Regions from separate parts of the Homo sapiens genome. Here region 2 is linked to region 1. Evidence: fine-mapped expression QTL. A gene starts in region 1. The other region holds a variant in brackets. All regions are shown on one strand. Distances are from middle to middle.

Evidence for each region. PIP is the estimated chance that this variant, and not a neighbour inherited with it, causes the effect.
Region 2: its variant is fine-mapped to the expression of GFPT2 in cerebellum (GTEx, PIP above 0.99). The same link has a PIP of 0.9 or more in cerebellar hemisphere.

What each region holds. Positions count from the first base shown.
Region 1 is chr5:180,350,333-180,355,705 of GRCh38, forward strand. It overlaps GFPT2 (glutamine-fructose-6-phosphate transaminase 2), which reads right to left and starts at 3,004. Exons shown (of 19, transcript NM_005110.4): 1 at 2,879-3,004. The coding sequence starts at 2,885. RefSeq lists an enhancer at 1,158-1,658 and a silencer at 3,031-3,260.
Region 2 is chr5:180,421,278-180,426,650 of GRCh38, forward strand. No RefSeq gene overlaps it. Among named protein-coding and RNA genes, the nearest start is that of CNOT6, 70 kb to the right of the region's middle. RefSeq lists an enhancer at 2,564-3,063. The variant C/T (reference allele first, on the strand shown) is at 2,231.

The DNA of each region.
Region 1 (5,373 bases):
TACTTTGGTAACTAATAGAGGAAAAGGTTTAAACCCTGTGCACCAAACAAAAAGATGTCTGTCTTCCCTGTTCGGCCAGTACTCTACCAGGCTGTAGCCCGTGCTCAAGGTCCTCCCTCCACAGCAGCACTGCCCTGATCGGCATCCCGTCCCTGCTGGTGACCAGTCTCTGGACTAGCCCTGCGGCTCACCTGCCCCTTCTTTGAGGGGAGGACCACACCCATGAGATCTTCGAGTCCCCCAGGGCCTGGAAAACACTGGGCATTTCCACTAGTGGCTGAATGAAAAAGGAAGCAGAGAAGGAAAGGAGAGAGACAGGGAGGAAATATTGTAAATTTTCTGTCGCAGAAAGTCAGCAAAATGCCAGCAACTTTCAGATGTCAATAAAACCAAAGTGTCATTTCAGCTAAATTCTCAGTGCACTGAAAGTTTTTGAGAATCATCTGCTGTTTGTAGAGGATCAACTACTGCCGAGTCCTGGCTTCCCATGAGAGAAGCAGCAGGATAAAGGACAGCAAGACATAATCTCAGCAGTGTCATCAGCCAAGTGATAAGGAAGGGCCTTAGGTCTCCGCCCCTGAGGGAACGGCCCAGGAGATCTGAGACCCGAGGCCTGCTCAGACGCCAGGTGCGCACAGACTTCGCAGGGCCTCAGCTTCCCCAGCGTAAAGTGAAGAGCTTATCTGGTTCTTTCTAGGAGCATCTTCACGATTCTTGCAGTATCCTTGTACTAATAGCATAATCACTACTTTTTCTTCTGCAGAATTTGATTAAATTTTCAAAAATTTAAATGAATTCATGCCAAAAGAAAACAACCATAAAAGGAAAATCAGTATCACTTGTCATACATACTCAGACCATCATCCCCCCCAAACAGACCAATGTATTCAATTCTAGCCAGCTGCTGCTGCCTGCTCTGAGCCAGGAATGGCTTCCCCTCTGCACAGGATACTTAAGCAAGTGTCAGAGAGATGTTAAGGACACGTTAGCACCAAGTTGAAACTTTCTCCTGATGTTCTTGAAAAGGAAATAACTTTCCCATGCAGGGATTCCACGACTTCCTGCTGAGCTGTGCCCTCCCCACTTCCCCCACCCTGCCCCCAGCCCCAAATCAGCAAATCTGGGAATTCTGAGAAGGCACCTAAGCCAGCACGCACTCTTTGATTCTGGCTCCGAGTGGGCACCCCCATGGACCGCAGCCACTCCTGAGCCCTGGGTGTCCTTTGGGGACCTCAAGCTCCTTCTCACATACAACCACAAGTCAGTACCAGAAAATCTGAAGATACAGGTGGTCACACCCCAAAGCTCAACCTTTCCCTAGGAGACAACGCGTGTGTGTCCCTTTAAGAAGCAGAACAAAAACACTTGTGATTTTGTGAGCTGGAGGAGGTAGAGCCCCCCCAAAGCTCAGAGAGACTTGGGAAAAAGCAAGATGCCAGTAGGAAGGAGGATGACAGGCAGGGGTGGCAGTGGGGGCAGAGGAGCATCTGAAAGGAAGGGGAAGGGGAGCCTCTGGTGCTGTGGGCAGACCCTCCTGGTTCAAGGGTCTCCTGCACAAGTCTGGCCCCAAGGCCACCAGTTTTGGCCAAGGGTCTTGAATGCTACACTGAGAGGTGTGGAACATCAGGGCTTGGACATCTGGCAAAACTACCACCTTTGCCTCATCTCTGCCCCCAGAAACACCCAAAGGTGGCTCTACACATGGAGAATGGCGTCTGGGAGCACGAGATTTTAGCTGAGGGTTCAGGAATTTCCACGGATGCCTGTTCAGCCTGGGTGAGGCGGCATCCCGAAGCACGCTGCCCGCTCCGCCGTAGGTCGTTCCCTTCTGCCGAGCAGCTGGCCTCCGAGACAAGAGGCCTGCACAGACCTCGGCCAGGGCTCACCGCGGGCGCACCCCACCCCGGCCCTCAGCAAAGTCAGAGAGAGGCCTTTCATGGCTTCGAAAGTTCCTCCAGGTCCTCCAGCCACAGGAGGCTGGAATGGGTAACCGAATCCTACTCAAGGAAAAAAAAAAAAAAAAAAAAGAGCACAGTGACCTTTTGTCCCAGCAGAAGTTCCCGGCTCTCTCCCGGCCAGCGGAGGCGGCCCAGCCAGGAGAGTAAAGAATTGCAGATGTGCGCTCCGGGCCGCGGCCGCCCTCCCCACGGTCCCGCAGCCACGCGGGACAGCGCGGGAGCGCCGCGGGAATCGGACGCCCGGCCCCGCTCCCCGCCCCGGACTCCCTCTCGTGGCTTCGGGCCGAGGTTCGGGCAGTGACTGCCTCTTCCCCGCGCAAAGAGGCGGTAACGCGGCAGCGACCCTTCTAGGGACCAGACGTTCCTTTGGGGTCGCGAGGAGGACGCGCAGGCCCTGCCTGAGGCACTGACGCAGCGGGGGCGACCGGGCGGGCTGCGGGGACGGCGGGGCGGGGTCGCCTCTCCTCTCCTCGGTGGGCGCGGCGGGCTGAGTCGGGATGGGCGCCCCGCACTCGGGATGCGCCGGCCTGCGCGTGGCCGCCTTTGTGGGCGACTGGGAGACGTGGAGGAGAGCGACCTCGGTCGGCATGGGGTGGGGACCCCTCTGTTACGGGGTCCAGGCCGGACCGGACCAGGTCCCTCCCCTCCGTGGGGACCGGGCCTCGGTCCCCCTCACTGTGTCCGAGACCAGGAGTCGGGTTGGGCATCCCCCACCCACACCTCCGAGACGGCCACTCGGGGAACGCGGGTGAGGGGCAGCCAGGCCCGGCCGACGACAGCCCCTCGGTAGGGGCCCGGGGCAGATCGGCGCCCCCAGCCAGGTCCTCGGCGCCTGCTTGCGGGCGGAGGCGCGGAGAGGCTGCGGCGCCGGGACCCGCGGACGGCGTGGAGGAGGCGGCTCGGGCGGGCGCGGCACTCACCGCACATCGTGGCTGCTTCTCGGGCTCCTTCGCGGCTCGAGGGGGTCTGCCCGTTCGGACGCTGGGGCTCCTCCGTGGGCTCCTCCGTGGGCTCCGTGGGCTCCGTGGGCTCCGCGGGCTCCAGCTCCCGTCCGCTCGGCCTCCAGCCCTTATAACCCGGAGCCCTCCGAGAGGGCGGGGAAGGGGGCGGGGAAGGGGCGGGGCTTCCCCCGCCCGCCTGCTCCCATTGGCCCCCGGTTGTCGTGACAACGACGGGACCCGGCCCCCAGGAGCCAGGGAGGGGGGCCGAGGGGCGGCTCCCAGGCGCGGGTCGGGCGTGTAAGGCTGGGGCGCCGGGCGCCAGATCCCGGAGCGGGGCTTAGGGCAACCAACGGCCCGAGTTCAGACCCCGACTCAACCAGAGTAGGCGTGGAAGCCGGGCAGGGCCCGATCGCGCTGTGCCTCCGCTTTCCCGTCTGTGAAACGGGGCTACCCAGGGAAGCTCCCTCCCACGGGGTGCTGAGAAGTCAGACGGGCCGCGTAAGGGGCAGAGCGAGGGGTCCGGCATCACTCGCGCGCTCCGGAAACCCGCGTGAGCCGCTGTTCCTGCCGCGCTCCCATCTGAGTGACAGGCTTGTTTCAGAGCTCCGCAGACCTCTAAGCCTGGCCCTCACCCTGCGTGGAGAGAACGCCCGGGCTTGGCGGAGAGACGAGAAAACCGAGGCTCCCGGAGGCAGACAAGGACTCTGCCAAAACCGGACGCCGCGGCGGTGGCAGAATTCGACCCTGGGATTTGCCGCGGAGCCCGAGCTTGAAGGCGAGGGTTCCGCAGGTTGTGAACGAAGCTGGAGGCGCCCCAGGAAGCCCCGACCCCACCCGCGCCGAGCTGCCCCCTCCCCAGATCTGCCTCGCGCTGCAGGCCCGCGAGGGACCCGGGGGTTCCTACGCCTGGGGTCGGAATCCGACCCCCCAGTGAGGCACCAAGGCCCGCGTTTCTCCGCCCTGGTTCCCGGCCGTCCCTCCCGTTCCCCCTGCACTCTGGGCCCCTCGTCTCCCGAGGAAGGTCACGAGAACCGGCCCAACGTTTGCGCACTTTGAAGTTTTTTTTTTTCTTAAAAAAATCCTGAAATTCTAAACGGATCCTCCTCAGTCGTGTAAAAAAAAAAAGATTTTTACATCTCGTCTAGAGCATTTTTCTAACATAATCCCTCCCTAGTTTCACCGCGACTCTGCAAGCCCTGGGGGAAGGAGGTTGTGCCATTGGAGGGTTGGGAAAACTGAGGCTCCACGACAGCGAAGGAGGGGGCTTGGGTGAGTCCTGTTGTTGGGAAATCTCAGAGCGATTCAGGAGCCGCAGCGTTTGCCCCCAACCCTCCACTATGCAGGGTCGCTTTCCTTCCTTCCTTCTCTCATTCCTAAGAACCCACTTCACACCTGTCAGGGTGCAGGTGCAAGAGACTTATTGATGAATGAGAACAGATCTGGCCCTGCCCTCCTGGCACTTACAAGTGAAGGGGAAGCAGACACTAAGCTCGTGGTTACACAGAGAGCTAAAAATTCCAGGTAGGATACAAGGAGGGGGCTGGGCCAGCGGTGGAGAGGGTGCCAGGCTCTGCCTGGGACTGGGCAGGGCTGCGCTGGTGCAGGTGGTCCAGAGCCTAGCGAAGCCAGGAAGGAGGGAGCAGCAGGCAGTGCAAAGGTCCCCTGGATGAGGGCTAGAACTTGAATGTGGAGATCAGGTTGTTTGGCCCAGACTGGCCTCCACTGTTGTAACTGAGGCGGGGACAGGGTGATGTCAACAGGCCCTCTGATAGCACCAAGACCCCAGGAGCCCTGGGGTCTTAGCAGGGTCCAAATCTGTCCTTTATCCTCCTGGAGGAGTCACAGGTCCACGGTGAGGAACGGCATGAGTGCACACTACCACCCATGGGGATGTGTCTGTAGCAGCTGCCGGCCTAGCATCACTCCTGCTTTGAGAACCCTCTGAGAGTCATCTGGGAGGTTGATGGCCTGGGCCTGGCCACACAGCCTGGGCAGTGGTTCAGAGGTCAGCATATGGCCCAGGCTGGGACGTTGATGACCTGCTCCAGCACATGAGGGAAACCAGCAGAAAAGATGAACTTGGCCTGGTACAGTGGCTTGGGTCTGTCATCCCAGCACTTTGGGAGGCTGAGGTGGGAGAACTGCTTGAGGCCAGAAGTTGGAGACCAGCCTGGGCAACAGGGAGACCCATCTTTACAAAAAGTAAAAAAAAAAAAAAAAAAAAAAAAAAAAAGCCAGGCACGCTGGGTGCAATGGCTCATGCCTGTAATCCCACCACTTTGGGGGGCAAAAGTTTGAGATCTTTGGGATTGCTTGAGCCCAGGAGTTCGAGACCAGCCTGGGCAACACAGCAAAACCCGTCTCTACTAAAAACACAAAAATTAGCCAGGTGTGGTAATGTGCACCTGTAGTTCCAGCTACTCGAGAGGCCGAGGCACGAGAATGGCTTGAAACTGGGAGGTGGAGGCTGAAGT
Region 2 (5,373 bases), 71 kb after region 1:
ATAAGTAGTGCTGCAGTAAACATATTGTTTCATGCGTCCGTGTGAAGAGACCACCAAACAGGCTTTGTGTCAGCAACAAGGCTGTTTATTTCACCTGGGTGCAGGCGGGCTGAGTCCGAAAAGGGTCAGCAAAGGGTGGTGGATTATCATGGTTCTTATAGGTTTTGGGATAGGCGGTGGTGTTAGGAGCAATGTTTTGCAGGCAGGGGGTGGATCTCACAAAGTACATTCTCAAGGGTGGGGAGAATTACAAAGAACCTTCTTAAGGGTGGGGGAGATTACCAAGTACATTGATCAGTTAGGTTGGGACAGAAACAAATCACAATGGTGGAATGTCATCAGTTAAGGCTATTTTCACTTCTTTTGTGGATCTTCAGTTGCTTCAGGCCATCTGGATGTATAGGTGCCGGTCACAGGGGATATGATGGCTTAGCCTGGGCTCAGAGGCCTGACACACATGTGTGCAAGTGTCTTCATAACAGAATGATTTATAATCCTTTGGGTATATACCCAGTAATGGGATCGCTGGGTCAAATGGTAATCCTGGAACTTAAAGTAAAATACCAAGTAATAAATAAATAATATATAAATAATAAAATAGAAATAATAAATAACATATAAATAATAAATAAACTATAGCATTACCTGGTGGGGCTCCTAATGCAAATAGATACAACACATAAGACAACTACGGTGTAAAAGGAGAGGGTGTGGTGAAGGTCTTTGTATTCTATTTAAAGTCAAAATGTTGATTCTGAGCAGACAGTGAAAAGTTGTATATACAAATCACAATCCCTAGTGTGATCACTAAAAAACATGCAAAGATACATATCAGAAACAGGCTGGGCGCGGTGGCTCACATCTGTAATCCCAGCACTTTGGCAGGCTGAGGCAGGCAGATCAGGAAGTCAAAAGATCGAGAGCTACTCGGGAGGCTGAGGCAGGAGAATCACTTGAACCTGGGAGGTGGAGGTTGTAGTGAGCCGAGATGGCACCACTACACTCCAGCTTGGCAACAGAGCGAGACTCTGTCTAAATAAATAAATAAATAAAATAAAAAAGATATATGTCAGAAGCATATAGATAAATTAAAATGGAGGCCAGGCGCAGTGGCTCACGCCTGTAATCCCAGCACTTTGGGAGGCCAAGGCAGGTGGATCACCTGAGGTCAGGAGTTCGAGACCAGCCTGACCAACCTGGAGAAACCCCATCTCTACTAAAAATACAAAAATTACCCAGGCGTGGTGGGCACGCCTGTACTTCCGGCTACTCGGGAGGCTGAGGCAGGAGAATTGCTTGAACCTGGGAGGCAGAGGTTGCAGTGAGCCGAGATGGTGCCATTGCACTCCAGCCTGGGTGACAAGACAGAAACTCCATCTCAAAAAAAAAAAATTAAAATGAAATATGAAAAAATTCTCAAATAACTGAAAAGATGGTATCTTCAGGCTGATAACCACACTGTCTGGATCATTGTAAGTTTAAAAGTCCTGAAATCTGGTATGGGTTAGTCCTTCATTGTTCTCAAAAGCTATCTTGGCTGTTGTAGGTCCTTCACATTTCCATAAGAATTTTAGAATCACCTAGTCAATTTTCACTAAATAGCTTCCTGGGATTATGACTGAGATGGCACTGAATCTGTAGATTAACTTTGGTAGAGCAAACATCTTAGCAATAGAGAATCTTCCAGCACATGAGTGAAGTATATCTCCCCATTTATTTAGATAGTCTTTAATTTTTCTCAGATATGGTTTGTAGTGTGAATACACAGGCCTTTCACATATTTTCTCAGATTTGTCATATTTTAATGCTATTTTAAATGATGTTTATCTTTAACTTCAATATCTCATTTTTCAATCCTGATATGTAGAAATATAATTAATTTTGTATATTTATTTCGAACTCTGCAATCTTGCTAAACCCAGTTATGAATTCTAGTAGGGTTTTTTTTTGTTTTGTTTTGTTTGTAGATTTCATCATAGTTTCTCCATAGGGGATCATGCCATCTGTGAATAAAACCATTGTTTTTTTCTTCTTTCCCAATTTGGATGACTTTTATTTCTTTTTTATGCCTGACTGCACTGGCTAGAGCCTCCAGTGCAATCCTGAGTGGAGGTGGTGAGGGTGAATATTTTTGCCACATTCCTGGTTGTAGGAAAAGGTATTTAGCCTTTCAGTATTAATATTATGTTAGCTGGAGGTTTTCCATACGCTCTTTACCAGGTTGAGGAAG[C/T]TCCCTAGTTTGCTGAAACTTGTTTTTTATCAGGAGTAGATGTTGGATTTTGTCAAATGCTTTTTCTTTAATTGATTGAGGTGATTATATGATTTTTCTTTTTTAGTTTCTTAATATGGTGTACTAGTTTCCTATGGTAACAGATTACCACAAACTTGGTGTCTTTAAAACACAAAAATTGATTCTCTCATGGTTATGGAGGCTAGAAATCTGAAATCAAGGTGCCAGCTGGGCCATGCTCACTCAAAGCTCCAGGGAAGAACCTGCCTGCTGTTTCCAGCGTCTGGTGGCCCCAGGCCTTCCCTGGGTAATGGTGGCGCAGCGCTGATCTCTGTCTGCCTTCACCTTCACACGGCCCTTCTTGTTTGCCTCTGTGGTCACTTCTCTCCTTACAAGGACACCAGTCATTGGACTTAGGGACCACCCTAAATTCCGGACAGTTTCATCTGAGATCCTTAACTAATTACATCTAAAAAGACTATTTCCAAATAAGGTCACATTCTGAGGTTCTGGGTGGAAATGACCTTTTTTTTTTTTTTTTTTTTTTTGAGACATGGCCTCGCTCTGTTGTCTAGGCTGAAGGGCAGTGGCACGATCACAGCTCACTGCAGCCTCAAAGTCCTGGACTCAGGCAATCCACCTGCCTCAGCCTCCCAGGTAGCCAAGACCACGGGTGCATACCACTACACACAGCTAATTTTTAAATTTTTTGTAGAGGCAGCATCTTACTATGTTTCCCAGGCTCATCTCAAACTCCGGGCTCAAGCGAGCCTCCCACCTCAGGCTCCCAAAGTGCTGGAATTACAGACATGAGTCACTGTGCCCGGCTGACACACAGTTGTTTTTTTTTTTTTTTTTTGAGACAGAGTCTCGTTCTTGTTGCCCAGGCTGGAGTGCAATGGCACAATCTCTGCCCACTGTAATCTGCACCTCCTGGGTTCAAGCAATTCTTCTGCCTCAGCCTCCCTCGGGAGGCTGGGATTATAGGCATGTGCCACTACACCAGCTAATTTTGTATTTTTAGTAGAGATGGGGTTTCTCCATGTTGGTCAGGCTGGTCTCGAACTCCCGACCTCGGGTGATCCACCTGCCTCAGCCTCCCAAAGTGCTGGGATTACAGGCGTGAGCCACTGCGCCCAGCCAACATACATTTTTGAGGGACACTAGTCAACCCACTAAACATGACATATTTTATTCGATTTTTGAATGAATGCTAAGCCAAACTTGCCTTCTTGAGATAAACCCCTATAGGTCATAATGTATTAATCTTTATAAGTTAATCTTTATAAACTTTTCTTTAAAAAATTCATCTATATTCATTAGAGATTTTAGTCCTTAATTTTCTTTTCTTGTAATGTCTTTGGATGATGATAATTATTATTATTTTGAGATGGAGTCTCACTCTGTCTCCCGCGCTGGAGTTCAGTCGCAGTATCTTGGCTCACTGCAAGCTCTGCCTCCTGGGTTCAAGCAATTCTCCTGTCTCGGCCTCCCAAGTAGCTGGGATTACAGGTGCCCGCCACCATGCCCAGCCTTGTCTTCGGTTTTGATATCAGCATAATAGCAGCCTCATAGAAATAGCTGGGAAATATTCTCTTCACTTCAATTTTATGGATTTGTTTGTGTAAAATCGTTATTATTTCTTATTTAAATGTTTGGTAGAATTCCCCAGTGAAAGCACCAGGGCCTGGAGTTTTCTTTGTGGGTGAGTTTGTAACTACGAATTTAATTTCTTTAATAAACAAAGTGCTACTTAAGTTATCTGTTTCTTCTTGAGTCATTTTTAATGTCTGTGGCTTCCAAGGAATTTGTGCATTTAATCTAGGCTTTCAAATTTATAGACAATATGTCTTTCTTTCTTTCTTTTTTTTTTTTCTTTTTTTTTTTTTTTTTGAGATGGAGTCTCACTCTGTTGCCCAGGTGGGAGTGTAATGGTGCTATCTCAGCTCACTGCAACCTCCACCGCCCAGGTTCAAGCAATTCTCCTGTCTCAGCCTCCCGAGTAGCTGGGATTACAGGCACCGACCACCACGCCTGGCTAATTTTTGTATTTTTAGTAGAGACGAGGTTTCACTGTTGGCCAGGCTGCTTTTGACCTCCTGACCTCAGGTGATCCACCCACCTCAGCCTCCCAAAGCCCTGGGATTACAAGCGTGAGCCACTGTGCCCGGCCTATATATATATATAATATATATAATATATAATATATAATGTACATATTATATATAATGTATATATTACTTATAATGTAAATATTATATATATTTTATATATATTTTGAAACTGAGTCTCGCGCTGTCTCCCAGGCTGGAGTGCAGTGTAGCGATCTCGGCTCACCGCAAGCTCCGCCTCCCAGGTTCACACCATTCTCCTGCCTCAGCCTCTCCAAGTAGCTGGGATTACAGGTGCCCGCCACCACGCCCGGCTAATTTTTTGTATTTTTAGTAGAGACGGGGTTTCACTGTGTTAGCCAGGATGGTCTCGATCTCCTGACCTCGTGATCCGCCCGCCTCGGCCTCCCAAAGTGCTGGGATTACAGGTGTGAGCCACCATGCCAGTCCAGGTCTCGATTGTTTTATAATATTACTTCATCATCCTTCAAATACTTGTGGAATTTGTAGTACTATAATCTCTTTCATTTCTGCTCTTGAATTTGTATCCTCTCTTTCATTCTAATCAATTTGGCTAGAAGTTTACCAATTTTATAGGTCTCTCTTTTTTTTGTTTTCAATTTTATTGATTTCCTCTTTGATTCTTTTTTTTTTTTTTTTTTTTTTGAGACGGAGTCTCGCTCTGTCGCCCAGGCTGGAGTGCAGTGGTGCTATCTCTGCAAGCTCTGCCTCCAGGGCTCACGCCATTCTCCTGCCTCAGCCTCCAGAGTAGCTGGGACTACAGGCGCCCGCTATGACGCCCGGCTAATTTTTTGTATTTTTTAGTAGAGACGGGGTTTCACCCTGTTAGCCAGGATGGTCTCGATCTCCTGACCTCGTGATCCACCCGCCTCAGCCTCCCAAAGCCCTGGGATTACAAGCGTGAGCCACTATGCCCGGCATATATATATATATAATATATATATTATATATAATGTATACATATATAATGTATATATCACATATAATGTATATATTATATATAATGTATAC